Homo sapiens: one gene and its partner. The protein of the gene in region 1 purifies or fractionates together with the protein of each later gene. This does not show direct contact. Each region holds a gene or a part of one and is shown in the gene's direction. Other genes may lie near its edges.

Region 1 (3,824 bases):
GCCCCCTTAGCATTGTCAGGGGAAGACCGCCTACTCAAGCCTCAGTAATGGTGGACACCCCCCCGCCCCCGCCGCCACCAAGTTCAGTTGTCGCAGTTTGACTTCAGACTGCTGTGTTGGCAGTGAGAATTTCAAGCCAGTGGTTCTTAGCTTGCTGGACTCCGTGGGAGTGGGACCCACTGAGCAAGACCACTTGGCTCCCTGGCTTCGGCCTCACTTCCAGAGGAGTGAATGGTTCTGTCTCGCTGGGATTCCAGGCACCACTGGGTTACGAAAAAAAAAAAAAAAACTGCAGCTAGCTCACTGTCTGCCCAAATTGTCTCCCAGTTTTATCCTTGAAACCCAGGACCCTGGTGGTGTAGGCACACCAGGGAATCTCCTGATTTGTGGATTGCAAAAACCATGGGAAAAGTGTAGTATCTGGGCTGGGTAGCACAGTCCCTCACAGCTTTGCTTGGCTGAGGGAGAGAGGTCCCCTGGCTCCTTGCACTTCTCATGTTGGGCGATGCCCCACCCTACTTCTGCTCACCCTCCGTGAGTTGGACCCACTGGCTAACCAGTCCCAGTGAGACGAACTGGGTACCTCAGTTGTAAATGGAGAAATCACCCACCTTCTGCTTTGGTCTCACTGGGAGCTGCTGACCGGAGCTGTTATTCGGCCATCTTGCCAGATTCTCCGAAAATGCTTATTAAGGAGTTTACTTCTCATTTCTCTAAAAGATACTTGGGAGAGACAGTTTATTTAAAAGTATTACATCTCTTAATATATTGAAAACTTTTCCTGTGAGGTTATATTAAATTTACAACTTTTTTAATTGCAACAGAGATAACATAAGCAAACGTACACTTACTTTGATGAAAAACTTAAAATGCACTGGGGACTACTATGATAGAAGCCACTTGCTAACATTGGATTTATGGTTTGCTTTCTTAATATGTTATATAGTAAGCCACCATTTATTGAATGGATTAACTACATGGGACCCTCCCTTCTATGTTTTATCTGTGTACACATACCCTTACACCTTGGGGCCCAGCTTAACAGCAAAGTTCAATAGCTCCTGTCTCCTGCTGAACATTTAGCATATTCCAGGATAACTTCTGCCATTTTACATTTTCCTCCTCCGTCACTAATCACACATCCAATTCCACAGATTTGGCATCTTCCGATTTAAAAGTGGTGTATAAGGATTTAGTATATATTGAAAAATATCTCTCAAGATTCTCTTGAGAGTTAACTGTGTAGAGTATAGATTTTACTTTGCATAAATGTAGGTGAAATAAACAGATTGCAAGGCTATTGATGCTGTCACATTTTCAGCAAATGTAAAATTATGTATGTATACATGTATATATATATACACACACATTTTTTTTAATTTAGGATTTGCTTTCCCATATGCTTCATATGGACCCACATCAGCGGTATACTGCTGAACAAATATTAAAGCACTCATGGATAACTCACAGAGACCAGTTGCCAAATGATCAGCCAAAGAGAAATGATGTGTCACATGTTGTTAAGGTAAAACAAACATACTTTTATGTGCCTTCGAGATATCAGATACCTAATAAACCCATTGTGTGCCACTTGCTGATGACACTTAAATAATTCCTTAAAATATCTTTATTTTTTAAAGATAGATTTTTTTAAATTAACAACCATGTACTTTTCTTAGCTTACTTTACTACTGCCTTTCAGATGAAACAATAAAAATTTCTTGATTGTACCTGCCGTGCTTTTGAGAGATGCTGGAATTAGGATTGGGCTAAATGCAAGTTTCATATTGAAATAAAAGATTGCTGTTAGTTCTTAATTTATAACTGTTCGTGAAACCATTCCTATATCCATATACATTGAATCAAGGTTTTAAATGTTAGTGTTTTAACAATTTTTTGTAAAAAGCATAGTTATTGAAATGAAAAACATACAAGTAATATTGATTCATCAGTGCACAGATCTAATATATTCAATTATTTTCCTAGGAAAACATTTTGTTCTAGATATATGTCTCATGATATCATGTGAAAGTTTTTTTTTTTTTTAACTCCAGAATTTGTACTTAGTTTGTGGCATTTTCTCATTACTTTAGGGAGCAATGGTTGCAACATACTCTGCCCTGACTCACAAGACCTTTCAACCAGTCCTAGAGCCTGTAGCTGCTTCAAGCTTAGCCCAGCGACGGAGCATGAAAAAGCGAACATCAACTGGCCTGTAAGATTTGTGGTGTTCCTAGGCCAAACTGGATGAAGATGAAATTAAATGTGTGGCTTTTTTCCTATTCTTATCAAAGGCATCGTTGTCTGCTAAATTACTTGAATATTAAGTAATATTAAATCCCCATTTTTAGGGGAAGTGAGATTTAAAAAACCATTCACAGGTCCACAATATTCATACTATGTGTTTGCAGTAGTGTTCAAGTGTTTATTTAAGCATATAATTGGTGTCCACCAGGTCCTCACAACTTCTCTGCACACAAGCTTCTAAAATTCCTTTCAAATAAAGTTACTTTAATATTTTTTTTCTTGTTTCATACAATTATGGTTTGGGGAGTCATTACCAACAATCAGTATACATATATAATAGTATAATGACAAGCAATGTTAGTATTTTTAAACATCAGATCCTGAAGGATAGGCTTTTTCTAATGAAAGAAAAACAACAAAAACTTATTATAAAAGCTTGTTATTCCGTAAAACCAAAGGACTCCATTCATTTGACTCACTGTAGTTACTAAAATGTAAACATAGTGGTTTGGTGCCAGAGCAAAATACATTTGTGCTAATATATGAATTCTTGATATAGTTGGTGCCAAAGTTTTTATAGAAGAATTATATCTCAGATAATGTGTGCAGGCAGATCTGTATATTATCCATAATAAGTGGCCTCATTTAGAAATAAAGGTTTTTATAAGGCTTCTGTAAATTTTACATCATGGAAATTTAGTACAAGTGAAACTTTTTTTTTTTCCAAAGGCTTTATACTGTTGGTGTAATCTTATAAATAGGTCATAGTTAAGCCTTTGAAAATGAAGTATGTGGTGTTGACACTATCCTGGTGTTATATAAACTGACTTTCAAGTTAACCAATTGGATTGTAATCATCATCTATCCCCTTTATAAATGAACTACACTGTTGTTTTTCTGACTTCGATGTGCTTTGAAGTACAGTGTAGCATATCATTCTACCTTGAATCCTATGATAATACAGTTGACATCTTGCTGTAGTGGACTTGTGCATATAGCACACATGATATAGTATATTGTATTACAGTAAACTTTAGACAATGCTACTTAATCATTTTACTTCATGAAGATAAACTAACATTTTAAATATGAATAATATTAATGGTCTACAAAAAATTTGAGCACATTTTAAAATCATATTTATAAAAAACTGGCCAAATTGGTCTTATTTAATGTATAATTCAGAACCACTGTGTAGTATGTATTCTTTTCTCTAAATGATGAAATGCTAAAGAATCATTTCACGTTGTTGAAGAAAATACCGTTGCTACAACAACAGCAGCAGCTACTACTGCTACTACTACTACTACTACTACTACTACTACTACTACTGACAGAAAGAATTCATGAATGTAAACTGGAGGATATCACAGTTTTCTTTAGTGAATATAAGTGAACTACTTGTGCGTGTTAGGTGTACTATTTGCTATGTATTTTATTTTGCTTTATTCAGAGAGAAAGTTGATTACTGAGTGCTGAATTATACAATTTAGGCTAGGAAACTCGTAACTTTGGTATTTAATAAAAGAAACTATACATATTCTGTTTGTAATGTAAATAATCTATACCCCATGCAC
Region 2 (3,824 bases), on another chromosome or scaffold:
GTGGGCCTTGGAGCCTTTGTGGACATATAATGGTATTGGTGCCAACACAATAAATCCGAGAGATGGGAGTCAAGCTGGGCCAGGCAGGGTCGCAGGTGGGGACCCAGAACTGTGCTTCTAGAAAGCAGGGTCTAGAACAAGTCCTGAGCTGTGGTCAGAGAAACAGGAAGCAAGCAGGGCTTCCTGAGGATGGATGTGTAAGGCCAAGGTCCCACTGTAGGTCCCTGAACCCCGGGTGTGTGACCTGGGCAAGTTCCCTCCTCTCAGAGCCTGTCTCCTCATCTGGGAAGTGGGCAGTGAGGTCTGAGGCACTAGTAGAGTCCATGCCTTGGAGCACAGGGATTATTGGTTTCTCGGATTGGCTCTGGGGAGGGTGAGATTGGATCCCGGGGACTCAGACCTGTCTCTGACTGCAGGACATCAATGATAACCTGCCCATCTTCAATCAGTCCAGCTACAACTTTACGGTGAAGGAGGAGGATCCAGGTATGTGCTCCCTGGGCCAGGAGAGACACTGCGGCTGGGACCCAGTGTGGCTTTGTCAGGGTGGACCTCGAGTTCCAAGAGAGGCAAGGGCAGAGGAGGCTTCCGATGGCGGGGTCAGGAGTCCTTCTGAGCTCTGCCCCTTGTCCACAGGAGTGCTAGTGGGCGTGGTGAAGGCCTGGGACGCGGACCAGACGGAAGCCAACAACCGCATCAGCTTCAGCCTGTCGGGGAGTGGTGCCAACTACTTCATGATCCGAGGCTTGGTGCTGGGGGCTGGGTGGGCTGAGGGCTACCTCCGGCTGCCCCCGGACGTGAGCCTGGATTACGAGACACAGCCCGTCTTCAACTTGACAGTGAGTGCTGAGAACCCAGACCCCCAGGGGGGTGAGACCATAGTAGACGTCTGCGTGAATGTGAAAGACGTGAACGACAATCCCCCCACCCTGGATGTAGCCTCACTCCGGGGCATCCGTGTGGCTGAGAATGGCTCACAGCACGGCCAGGTGGCTGTGGTGGTTGCCTCGGATGTGGACACCAGTGCCCAGCTGGAGATACAGCTTGTGAACATTCTCTGCACCAAGGCCGGGGTCGATGTGGGCAGCCTATGCTGGGGCTGGTTCTCAGTGGCGGCCAACGGCTCTGTGTACATCAACCAGAGCAAAGCCATCGACTACGAGGCCTGTGACCTGGTCACGCTGGTTGTGCGGGCCTGTGACCTAGCCACGGACCCCGGCTTCCAGGCCTACAGCAACAATGGTAAGGCAGCCTGTCCTTGCAGGGCTTGGCAGGCCATAGCTTAGGGGCCGCGGGAAGGAGCCCTGGGCTGGAACTCACAAGGTCTGGGCTCAGATCTTGGCTCCAGCCCTTTCCAGCTGCAAATACTGGGAAAGTCCCAAACCCTCTCCAAGCTTCAGTTTCCCCATCTGTCCAGTGGAGTTGGGCAGTGGGGTGGGCTGTGAAGATTCAATGAGAATATGGATGTATGGCATTTATTGCAGTGCCTGGCATGCAGTAGCATCAAATTAATGCCATTATTTTACAAGATGCTGTGAAAGAAAGATAACACTGCAGAGCTAGATGTGTGCTTGTATCCCACTTCTGACACCAAATAGCAATAATAATCACATTAACAACTAGCATATATTGAGTCCTTATGACAGCCAAGAACTACACCAGGCACCTTGTAAGAATTTTTCCACTTCCACACAACCCATGGGGTAGGTGTTCCCTATCCAATTTTATAGATGAGGAAACTGAGGCAGAAAGTGGGTATTTAAACAACCAGCTTATATAGTTAGAATGTGTCAGTATAATGTCATAGGTGAGATCTACCTAGGCTGGGCCCAATCCTGGCCCACCACTATTGCTGTGTGACTTTGACAAGCTGCTTATCTGCTCTGAGGTCTGGGATGATACTCCCACCCACACAGGCCAGAGAAGACCGATCAGGCATTCTGGGTCAGGAGCAGGGAAGGGGACTGAGCATGGGGGAACACATGGGAGAGAAGCTGCGGGGCATGGGGTTGAGGCTGCGGGGCACGGGGTTGAGGCTGCGGGGCACAGGGTTGAGGCTGCGGGGCACGGGGTTGAGGCTGCGGGGCATGGGGTTGAGGCTGTGGGGCACAGGGTTGAGGCCCAGGCTCTTTGGGTCAAGCTTTTGCCCAGAGCCAAAGCCAGCTGACCTTGTCTCCTAGGAAGCCTCCTCATTACCATTGAGGACGTGAATGACAATGCACCCTATTTTCTGCCTGAGAATAAGACTTTTGGTAAGCAGCAACCCCATTCACACACCATACCCCTGCTCCATAAGGCCGCCTTTGAGCAACCCCGACAGACCCTCCTTGGACCCCAGGGGGAGCCTTTAGAAAGGGGGGAAGGCCTCTAATCCTGCATCTTCCTAGGGCTGCAATAGGAGAGGACATTGGAGTTTTCTTTTTTCTTTCCTTTTTTTCTTGAGACGGAGTCTTGCTCTGTCGCCCAGGCTGGAGCGCAATGGTACGATCTCAGCTCACTGCAACCTCCGCCTCCCAGGTTCAAGCAATTCTCATGCCTTAGCCTCCAGAGTAGCTGGGGCTACAGGCATGCGCCACCACACCTGGCTAATTTTTGTATTTTTAGTAGAGACAGGGTTTCATTGTGTTGGCCAGACTGGTCTTGAACTCCTGGCCTCAAGTGATCTGCTCGCCTTGGCCTCCCAAAGTGCTGGGATTATAGGCATGAGCCACCATGCCCAGCCAACACTGGAGTTTTCATTCCAGCTCTGTCCGACCTAATGTCTGGCCCTGGGCCAGGACTTCCCTCTCTGGGCCTCCATTTCCGCATGGTCCTGTGGGCCTGTGACCTCACCTGTGACAATGGGAGGTGGATGACTTGCTAACTACTGGCCCAGTGGTGGCTGTAATAGGGGTCTCTTTTGGTAGAGAGGTTGAGGGCAGGTTTAGGGGGATGAGCCCTGAGCTGGGCTCGTGACCAGCCTTGGTCCAGGTGGGCAGTGTCCCGACCCCGCTGACCCCGTTCCCGTTCACACCTGCAGTGATCATCCCTGAACTCGTGCTGCCCAACCGGGAGGTGGCTTCTGTCCGGGTAAGTTCTTGGCTCCAGCCTTTGTTGGTCATATGAGCCCCAGGGGACACAGGGCTGAGGCCTTCAGGCCTTCCATGGTAGAAAGAAAATATATGGGCTCCAACACATGAAAAAGAAAACCCCAGAAGGGAAACCAACACCTGTCTAATCAATGTAATCAAACTTCACTGTGATAAATGTAGCATTCATAAAAATGTCATGACCGTAAATACCACTTGCAGTCCAGATATTTCTTACTATACCAGAATTCTTGAGTAATACAGAGAACTCATAGCTAATTGTAAATTAAGCCAGTGCCTTGTCATTAAATAATTCTCAGAGCCAGCTGGGCACGGTGGCTCAAGCCTGTAATCCCAGCACTTTGGGAGGCCAAGGCAGGTGGATCACCTGAGGTCGGGAGTCTGCGACCAGCCTGACCAACATGCAGAAACCCCATCTCTACTAAAAAATACAAAATTAGCTGGGTGTGGTGGTGCATGCCTGTAATCCCAGCTACTTGGGAGGCTGAGGCAGGAGAGTCACTTGAACTCGAGAGGCGGAGGTTGCGGTGAGTCGAGATCACGCCATTGCACTCCAGCCTGGGCGACAAGAGTGAAACTCTGCCTCAAAAAAAAATAAATAAATAAATAAATTATTGGAGCCAAGTCATAAAAAGGCTTTCAGCTGTTTATGGTGTTGGATGTGGCAAGTTTATTAGGGGTGGTGGCCATGCCGTGTGGGGATGAGGCTTCCCACACCACCGAGGGCTGGGCCTG

What was found.
Region 2: the proteins of RPS6KA6 (region 1) and CDHR2 purify together in Homo sapiens (affinity purification with mass spectrometry; one large-scale study listed by BioGRID and IntAct). This does not show direct contact.

Annotation. Positions count from the first base shown.
Region 1 is NC_000023.11:84,062,672-84,066,495, reverse strand, and holds part of RPS6KA6 (ribosomal protein S6 kinase alpha-6), read left to right. Parts: intron 1-1,384; coding exon 1,385-1,525; intron 1,526-2,093; coding exon 2,094-2,219; 3' UTR 2,220-3,824. UniProt on the Homo sapiens protein: Constitutively active serine/threonine-protein kinase that exhibits growth-factor-independent kinase activity and that may participate in p53/TP53-dependent cell growth arrest signaling and play an inhibitory role during embryogenesis.
Region 2 is NC_000005.10:176,583,774-176,587,597, forward strand, and holds part of CDHR2 (cadherin-related family member 2 precursor), read left to right. Parts: intron 1-416; coding exon 417-486; intron 487-636; coding exon 637-1,242; intron 1,243-2,180; coding exon 2,181-2,252; intron 2,253-3,019; coding exon 3,020-3,069; intron 3,070-3,824. UniProt on the Homo sapiens protein: Intermicrovillar adhesion molecule that forms, via its extracellular domain, calcium-dependent heterophilic complexes with CDHR5 on adjacent microvilli. Thereby, controls the packing of microvilli at the apical membrane of epithelial cells.